Linked DNA regions of Homo sapiens: all the other regions are linked to region 2. Evidence: fine-mapped QTL for protein levels in blood plasma. A gene starts in region 2. Each other region holds a variant in brackets. All regions are shown on one strand. Distances are between the middles of the regions.

Region 1 (2,761 bases), 12 kb before region 2:
TCTTCTGTATGAAGGGGACATTTGGACAAGATAATCTCTAAGTTGCTCAAGGGTTATTGAATTTTTATTGTTATTATTTTAGTTTTTCACGATACCTTTCACAGCACCTTTCTCTTCATATTTAAATTGTAAGGTCAGGGATTATAAATTCATTATTCCTTAGGATGGCTTGCCTAGAGTCCCTGATCCCCAGTCCCTGATTCTGGGGCAGCATATCTCAGTTTTCTGTGAAGGAGAGTACTTAGCAGGATTTCTGCCACAGTGCCCCAGGACACAAATTCATGTCTCCTGCAATGCCATGTCACCTGGCATTGACAAAGTACCAGCCAGGCTGAACCTTCCCTGAACCTTTTCACCTTCCTACATCCCTGATTCTCTCTTCTCTCTCGAGGTGGAAACTCCTTAGCCAAGCCTGAGGAGACGCTGGTGCTACAGGCTCTGATTTGGATAACTGGTCTCCAATTTGTCCATGATCTTCCCAGGCCCAAGATGTCATTTCAGAGTTAAATGCTTGTTAATATGACAAGAAGACAAAGAGATAAAGCATTGTATATTTAAAACCACAGAAAAATCTGTAAGACTGCTGGATCTCCTCTCTCTCTCCCTGTCTCTCTCTCCATCCTTTATGGCTTTTCCCTTAGGATCTGAAAAAAGGATATGATTAATATTTCACATTTAGTTAAGGACCACAAAGGTAGTAGAAGTCTGGACAAGTCTTCCAAAATTTTATTTGTAACTATTATAAACAAATTTTGAAAAGCCAATTATTCCCTAGCATGCTTTAAGTTGACATCTAACATTTTTATCATAATTGCATAATAGTTACAAAGAATAAACTTTTAAGAATATGATGAATATTGTCCTTTCATTTAAAAAGCAACCTTAATCTTTTTAATGTTTCTAACGGAATTTAATCATCTTGACTTGATAGTAATAACTATTAAGGAAAAAAAAAGCATGTTCTTTTCTCCCATCTTCTTCCTCTTCTTCTCCCTTTTTTCAACATTTCCTGAACTATTCAAACCAAAACTATAGGTGAGTAGGTTTGTTTAGGACTCACTCTGAAAAGCAGATACCTAGACAGGATTAGGTAATCAAGAGTGTGTGTCAGGGAAAATGCCTGTGAGGGACAAAGGGAGGTAGCCAAAGTGGCAAGGAGAGCATGAGACCATGATGCAGGGCTGCCTGCTCTGAGGGAGGAGAGAAGGAAGGAGGAAGAGTCTCAGAATGAATTACAACATTGGTAAAGTGCCAGTCAGGCTGAAAGACAA[C/G]GCTTGAACTGAAGTCACCTATCAGAAGAGGCCCAGGTCTCAGAATGAGCCTGCCTTAGTGTTCGGGCCTCACTCAGTCATTGGCTGGGAGTAACCTGATGGAAGCATCCATGACTTCTGCACAGACATAGTGGCAGATGCAGAGGACAGTAGCTGGGGGCATCCATCAGTTGCACACCCTGAAGCAGCAGGAGATCTAAGCAGTGCATTTCCATGCTCACCACTGTCCTCTACCTTGTGTTGCAGTTACTTCTCCAGGTATGGTGATGAAGGCTAGTTATCCCAGCTACTTGGGAGGCTGACGTGGGAGGATGGCTTGAGCCTGGAAGTCAGAGGTTGCAGTAAGGGGAGACCGCACCTCTGCATTCCAACCTGGGCGACAGAGCTAGACCCTGTCGCAAAAAAAAAAAAAAAAGAAAGAAAGAAAGAAAAAAAGAAAAAAGAAAGCTGGTTAATGTCAACTTGTTGAGTTTTTCATCTTGGCTGTCAGGGTCTAATCTATCATAGATGCTTCCCAGCAGGTGTTAATATGTAATACACAAGTCTTCACAGTAAATGTCTCCTCACATTTTGGTCCTCTTTCCCTACCACAGACATCCTTGCTACTGATTTTCTAGTCCTTTGCCTTCCAAGCTCCTTTTTAAAAAATTGGGTTTTAATATTATTTAGGTATTTAATATTATTTAGGTATGACAAAGCGAACATATCAGGAGATTACTGCCTTTTAAAAGAGAGTTTGTTATACTCACATATCTCAAAGGAGAGCCACACCTTGCCATGGGAAGGGTAGGGCAGGGGGGCACATAGAAAGCACCTTTTTCAGTCAAGAGATAGAGGGAGTGAGGGAGAAATGTGGGCAAACCTTTTCTGTGGTTCCTGCAAGAAGGAGCAGGTGAGGCAGGGTAAGTGTCTCAAGATTGGCCAGTTTGAATAATTTCAGTGATCTCTGAGGCAAAAGTACTGTCCCTAGCTGTCTCTGAGCCAGTACCATGATGTTCCCTATGGCCCCAAACCCTAGTAGACCCAGGGTCCAGCCTATCTCAGTAGACCGCAGCACTAGACTGGCCCCCAGAGACTCAGGCTCCAGGCTAGCCCCTATGGCCAGGACCCAGGACAACCCTTGTGAACCTAGCCTCCAGGCCAGCACCCACACACCCAGCCCCCAAGGTCAGCCCCAGTAAACTCAGGCTCCAGGCAGGTCCCCACAGACCCGGGCTCTAAGCCAGCACACACGTCTCCAGGAAACTGGCCAGCATCTGCAATGCCAGGATCCAGACAAGCCCCTGCAGACCCAGGAACTACAACTGCCACAACATGAGGCCAAACCCAGACTCTAGACCAGACTCTGTGTTCTCAGAGTCCAGAAGACAAAGGGTCCAGGATTGCCCTAACAGACCCAGGATCCAGGCCCATCCCAGTAGACCCAAATACCAGGCCAGTTCCCCATGCACTGAGGATCCAGTACCATCCCTGAAGACCCATGCTCAAGG
Region 2 (2,761 bases):
TTTCAAATATTTCAACAAATGTAGCTATAGGTATTCTAAAATATCCCAAACTATTAATAATTGTTAAATCCAGTTGTAGGTATACAAGTATCATTGTTCTGTTATTTCAATTTTTCTGTATGTTTAAAAAGTTCATAATAAAAAGGTGGAGGAGGAAATAGCCAATACATTCCAACATTCTAGTATTTGTTTATGAACTTCCCAGATTCCATCCCTGGTATCCAAATGATCTGAGTCCAGTGATATGACTGGTGAGATTGTAACCAAAGATTCACCACCTAATAAGGAGTAGGCTCACTTCCAGGAATGGAGGTATCCTCCCTGCCTCCACTTAACCCCAACTCAGTCCCTTCCACACTTCAGGATGTGGAACACCCCAAACCCAAATCTTTGCATTACTCAGGGGTCCTGTTAGTAAATGACAGAAATCCAATTCAGACCAGCTTAGGCAGAAAGGTGAATGTATTGGGTGGTAACATAACCCTGGGTATGAGTGGGGCTGATCTCAGGAAAAAGTTTAGTGAAGGACTAGATATCCTCTAAATTACTCCCTGTCCATCTCTCATCTCTTTTTATCAGCATCTTAGATTTATCTTCTCAGAATTTCTCTCTCACCAGGGCCAGGACCAAATTTCTGGAGTTTCTGGGCTTATATCTGCAACTTTTCCAACAGGAAGGATTTTCCTCCCTTTAGTACTCATTCAAAGAAAGGACCCCAAAAGCCTGGTCACACACACACACACACACACACACACACACACACGCACACACGTCCATGTCTTCTTCCAAATCCAGGAATTTGGGGGATGCAGGGGCAGAGGAGGGAAAACAAATCCTATGAAGATGATACAGTATAATTATTATGCTCATTGTATGAATGAGGAAACGGAGGCTTAGAAAGGTGAAGCTGCTTTCAAAGTCACACAGCTGGTGACAGGTCCAAAATCTGCTTTCCTCCAGGCCACATGAGATTGGCGGGGGGCAGGAGCACACGGTGCTGGAGCGCAAGGCTGAGAGTGAATGTTCAGGACAGACATTTTAAGCACTGCCATTCAGATTCTTCCTTGGGGTGAGGTGAGAACTGAGAACAAGTCCGGGGCAGCACAGGAAGGAGGGAAGATTTTGGTCCCAGGTGAATCAGGCATGAAGAGGGACTGATAGAGAACACGGTGGAGTTGAGGAAGTCTGGCCCTGCCACTGCCTCGTGTGTGAACTTGAGTAATTTCATGCCCTTTCTGTGCTTCTTTTCCTCCTTCCATAAGATAGTTTGGCCCTGGTGGCGCCTAATGGTCAATCACGTGTCCATTTCTTCTCCTCGTGTGAAGAACGAGGGTCGCTCTTGGATTTCTTCATCTATTCCAGTGCAGAGCCTTAGGGAAAGCCCCAAGTCCCTCCTCAGAAGGGGCCATTTCCAAATAGAGCTGGGAAGTGCAGCCTCCCTTGCCATTTTGAGCCTTCAGCTCCACCCACTGGCATGCCCAGCAGGAACACTATAAAGCCAGGCTCAGCCCAGCTCCCAGCCAAGCACCTGCCTGGCAACATGGGGTCCAGCAGCTTCTTGGTCCTCATGGTGTCTCTCGTTCTTGTGACCCTGGTGGCTGTGGAAGGAGTTAAAGAGGGTGAGCAGACATGGTGGAGCTGGGTGGGGCTGGGCTGGGGAGAGGTCCTGAGGGGCCCTCTGGGGCTGGAGTTCTCATATCACCTTGTGGCTTCCTCCACTAGGTATAGAGAAAGCAGGGGTTTGCCCAGCTGACAACGTACGCTGCTTCAAGTCCGATCCTCCCCAGTGTCACACAGACCAGGACTGTCTGGGGGAAAGGAAGTGTTGTTACCTGCACTGTGGCTTCAAGTGTGTGATTCCTGTGAAGGAACTGGAAGAAGGTAAGGAGACCTGCCTCCCAGGGCTGGGGCTGTCCCTTCCCTGCCTCTATCTGACCCATGAAAGTTCGGAGGAATTAGTCCCTTTAGCTGGTGTGGGGAGGGATGGCTAAAGCTGGCAGGGCCCTCAGAGACCACCTAGTCTGAACATCTCCATTGTCCAAAGGAGGAAACAAGGATGAAGATGTGTCAAGGCCATACCCTGAGCCAGGATGGGAGGCCAAGTGTCCAGGCTCCTCCTCTACCAGGTGTCCTCAGAAATGATGCTGGGTCCTTTCTACCTCTGGGGGTCACTCTCACTTGGCACCTGCCCCTGAGGGTCCTGAGACTTGGAATATGGAAGAAGCAATACCCAACCCCACCAAAGAAAACCTGAGCTTGAAGTCCTTTTCCCCAAAAAGAGGGAAGAGTCACAAAAAGTCCAGACCCCAGGGACGGTACTTTCCCTCTCTACCTGGTGCTCCTCCCTAATGCTCATGAATGGACCCCTCATGAATGAAACCAGTGCCCTTATAAGAGACCCCAAAGAGCTGCCTTGCCCTTCTGCAATGTGTGATCACAGCTAGAAGGCACTGTCAGAGAAGAGAAACTGGTCCTCACCAGATGCTGAATCTGCTGGTGCCTTGATCTTGGACTTCCCAGCCTCTAGAACTGTAAGAAATAAATATTTGCTGTTTATAATCCACCCAGTCTATGGTAATTTGTTATAGCAGCCCAAACCTGCTAAGACAACCTAATAGTAAAAAAAAAAAATCCTATTCAACATTATCAAAGTGAATAAAATATAAAATACCTACAAATAAATCTAGAGATGTACAGAAATTTTCTGAAAGGAAACCCTAAAACTTTATTAAATGACATTTTAAAAGATCTGGATAAATAG
Region 3 (2,761 bases), 36 kb after region 2:
CAGTTGTTCAGTTGTATTCTATTGGCCTTTTATATCACAATGGCCCTCACTTCATGGGTCAGAGAGCCAATATGGGGATCTTTTCCAACTATCTCTCCGAAACTGCTGATATAGAATAGTTTTGGAATTCCATTAGGCCTCCAGTGGCATGGACAAAAGCCAAAACACTTTTTCACATGATAGATGGACCTACAGTGGTACTCTTGAACCCAAGAAACTGGTATTAGCTCGAAGTCTTCATCAAGGTTCCCTGAATGGTGTATTTCCCTTTCCCCAGTATCCATTTACCTTGGGAAATGGCCACAGATCCTTTTGGAGAAGGCAAGAGAAATATTCACATTACACTCATGCAATATAGCAGAGTCCTTCCTCAAAGGTGAGTAGCATATCCTTCAATCAAAGGGCTTTAGATCAATAAACGCAAGCCCAGTGTTACACAGTGGCTCAAGTCGTGACTTTTTTTTTTTTTGCCAGAACTAGAGGGTGTTTTTGGTTTCCATTTTGCTTTGTTTCTTATGTTTTGCTGGTTAAACAAATCAAGTAAGACTTTAGTGGGTTGCCTTTAACTTTTTAGGGCCCTACACTGTGGCAGTGTGCCACGGTTACTACTTGAGACCATCATTACGACAGCTTACTACTGTTACTGCCTGAGACCGTCATTACAAGACTGAATGAAGGGACGAACATAGAAATGAAAACTTAAGACAAAAGAAACTATTTTAAAGGAAGGGGCCGGGGAAGAAGAAGAGAGCTCCCCGCTTCTAGTGAGCAAAGGCAGCCCCCAAGCTTCCACAGTCCTTCCTATTTATTGGGTAACAAGAGCAGGGAGGAGGAGGTAATGATTGGTCAGCTGCTTAACTGATCACAGGTTCATATTGTTACTAACAGGCTTCAGATGTACCTAATCACAAGAAACACTATGCTTGGGACGTGACTGCCCTCAGCATTCCTGCCGGGTGGCAGATGCAGTTCGTCGGTTTGCCAACATTCTGCATTTATGAGAAACAGTTTGCTGCTTACTCATATAGCCTCCAGTAGTATATGGAGTTGATCA[C/T]GACCCTCATCATTTCGGCCTGTAACACTACACCATGAGTTCTTGCCTCATACAGAGCCTACTGAATATTCCAGTGATCACTCCCACTTCATTTCTGAGGATGAAGTGCCAACGCCTGGCCTCCCACATCTCTGCATTCTTCTTCCCCTCTGAATCAGGCAACCTATTTCAAATTGCAGCCCCTCCACCCAGCATTCTTGACTTTCCTCAAAGCAAGGGTAAAGTGTGAGGGCTACAGTTAGAGGTATTTGTGGGAAGGAGGCACAAAATAGATCCAATCCAGCCTCCTGTCTTTCAGAAATCTTTGAATCTCTTCTTCTACATGATGCCAAGGGATTTGGGGCCCTTAAGTTCCATTTCACGTGGGCCAGCATTTGTTTTAAGTTTGCATTAGCCAACTCATCACATTGTTAGAGCCTTGCCAGCTCCTGGAGCTAGCACAGAGAATGCCAAATAATCCCTGGCAAGTGAAACCATATCAAGAAGATCAGCCTGAGCCAAGATTACATTCCCCCTTCCTTGATAAAGCACCACAAAAATCCATTTCCACAGATACTTCCCCAAATTTTTGATGGTGTCAGTTAACAAGTTTCTTCAATTCTGTATGGGTCCAGGATTTTTACCTACTGTGTCTACTTGTCATGCTCTAGGCCAAACTGATCCCCACCTTCCAGCTAAGTAGCCTTGAGGGATGGGGCAAGCAGAAAATTGTGAGCTTTCTCCTCTAAGAAAAGGTGTGAATTGTTTGCACCCAGTGTTTTAGAGAGCTTTCAGTTTTCTCCCACATCCTCTCATATGATCATTCCACTTGTCATAATCCCACTGCCTATTAATGCCTAACTTCACAAAGTGCAGCAGGGCTGTGAATTCAGCAGCCTGCATCATCAATTGCCAACTTTGGTATTTGGAGAACTAGGCCCTACTGCAAGTCATAAGAGAGTCTTTTACCGTAGTCATAGAAATGCTGTCCGTTCATTCTGTTTATGAATTTTTTTTATGTTAAAAAAAAAGGCATTGGGGCTTCCTTTGTTGACTCTCCCTTTATATTAATCTATGTGGTTAGAAACAAAATACTCTATCACACAGCCTGAACACTCCTCACTTCCTTAAAATTAACTGTGACACGTGTTATCCCTTCTCTGAGAGCCTCCTCAGTGGTCAGATGCTATGAAGTAATGTAAGACATAGGTCTTTACCATTGCAGACCATTGCTGGCTTCCCAGACTAGAGCATGAGCAACAACCTCATTGTATTTTGCCCCATCACAGTCTTAGGAAATATCCCACATTTCCTAGAGGATATGGTGTCTACAACTCAACTCTAGTTCCAATTTCTGTATCAGTTAGGAATTTTTGGTTGCAAACAACAGAATCCAACTCTGGAAAACTTAAGCCAAAAAAGGACTGCATTGGAAAGGTACTGGATAGGATCAAAGTCAAATTAAACAACAAGGCTTTGAGAAAGACAGCAATTCGAGCAACATAGGGATTGAGGTAGGTAAAACTCATAAATCACCTCTTTGGGGCACTACAATTAAAATAGCTTAGTGACAACTGCCTCCATTGTATAAATCACTCTGCTCAAGCTAAAAAATTCTCTGAAGATTGAGTCTAACTAGACTGGTTTGGGTCATATGCTCATCACATGATTTCGGGGTGAGATGGGAGGAACTATCACAGACAGTCCCACCAGGACATAGATGGCAGA

Which allele goes with the higher level. Positions count from the first base shown, and alleles are read on the strand shown. Strength reflects both the effect of a copy and how common the allele is.
With allele C in place of G in region 1, the plasma level of the protein whose gene starts at base 1,523 in region 2 is higher (moderate association).
With allele C in place of T in region 3, the plasma level of the protein whose gene starts at base 1,523 in region 2 is lower (weak association).

The links. PIP is the posterior inclusion probability: the model's chance that the variant is causal. The UK Biobank Pharma Proteomics Project read protein levels with antibody pairs (Olink). The fine-mapping took linkage between variants from a reference panel, not from the people measured, so its PIPs are less certain.
Region 1: its variant is fine-mapped to the plasma level of the WFDC12 protein (UK Biobank, PIP above 0.99).
Region 3: its variant is fine-mapped to the plasma level of the WFDC12 protein (UK Biobank, PIP above 0.99).

The regions. Positions count from the first base shown.
Region 1 is chr20:45,135,528-45,138,288 of GRCh38, reverse strand. LOC101929863 (a long non-coding RNA gene) reads left to right here. Exons shown (of 3, transcript XR_936751.3): 3 at 392-851. Among named protein-coding and RNA genes, the nearest start is that of WFDC12, 12 kb to the right of the region's middle. The variant C/G (reference allele first, on the strand shown) is at 1,272.
Region 2 is chr20:45,123,227-45,125,987 of GRCh38, reverse strand. It overlaps WFDC12 (WAP four-disulfide core domain 12), which reads left to right and starts at 1,523. Exons shown (of 3, transcript NM_080869.2): 1 at 1,523-1,619; 2 at 1,723-1,881; 3 at 2,045-2,563. The coding sequence starts at 1,541. The coding sequence ends at 2,142.
Region 3 is chr20:45,086,737-45,089,497 of GRCh38, reverse strand. No RefSeq gene overlaps it. Among named protein-coding and RNA genes, the nearest start is that of KCNS1, 13 kb to the left of the region's middle. The variant C/T (reference allele first, on the strand shown) is at 1,055.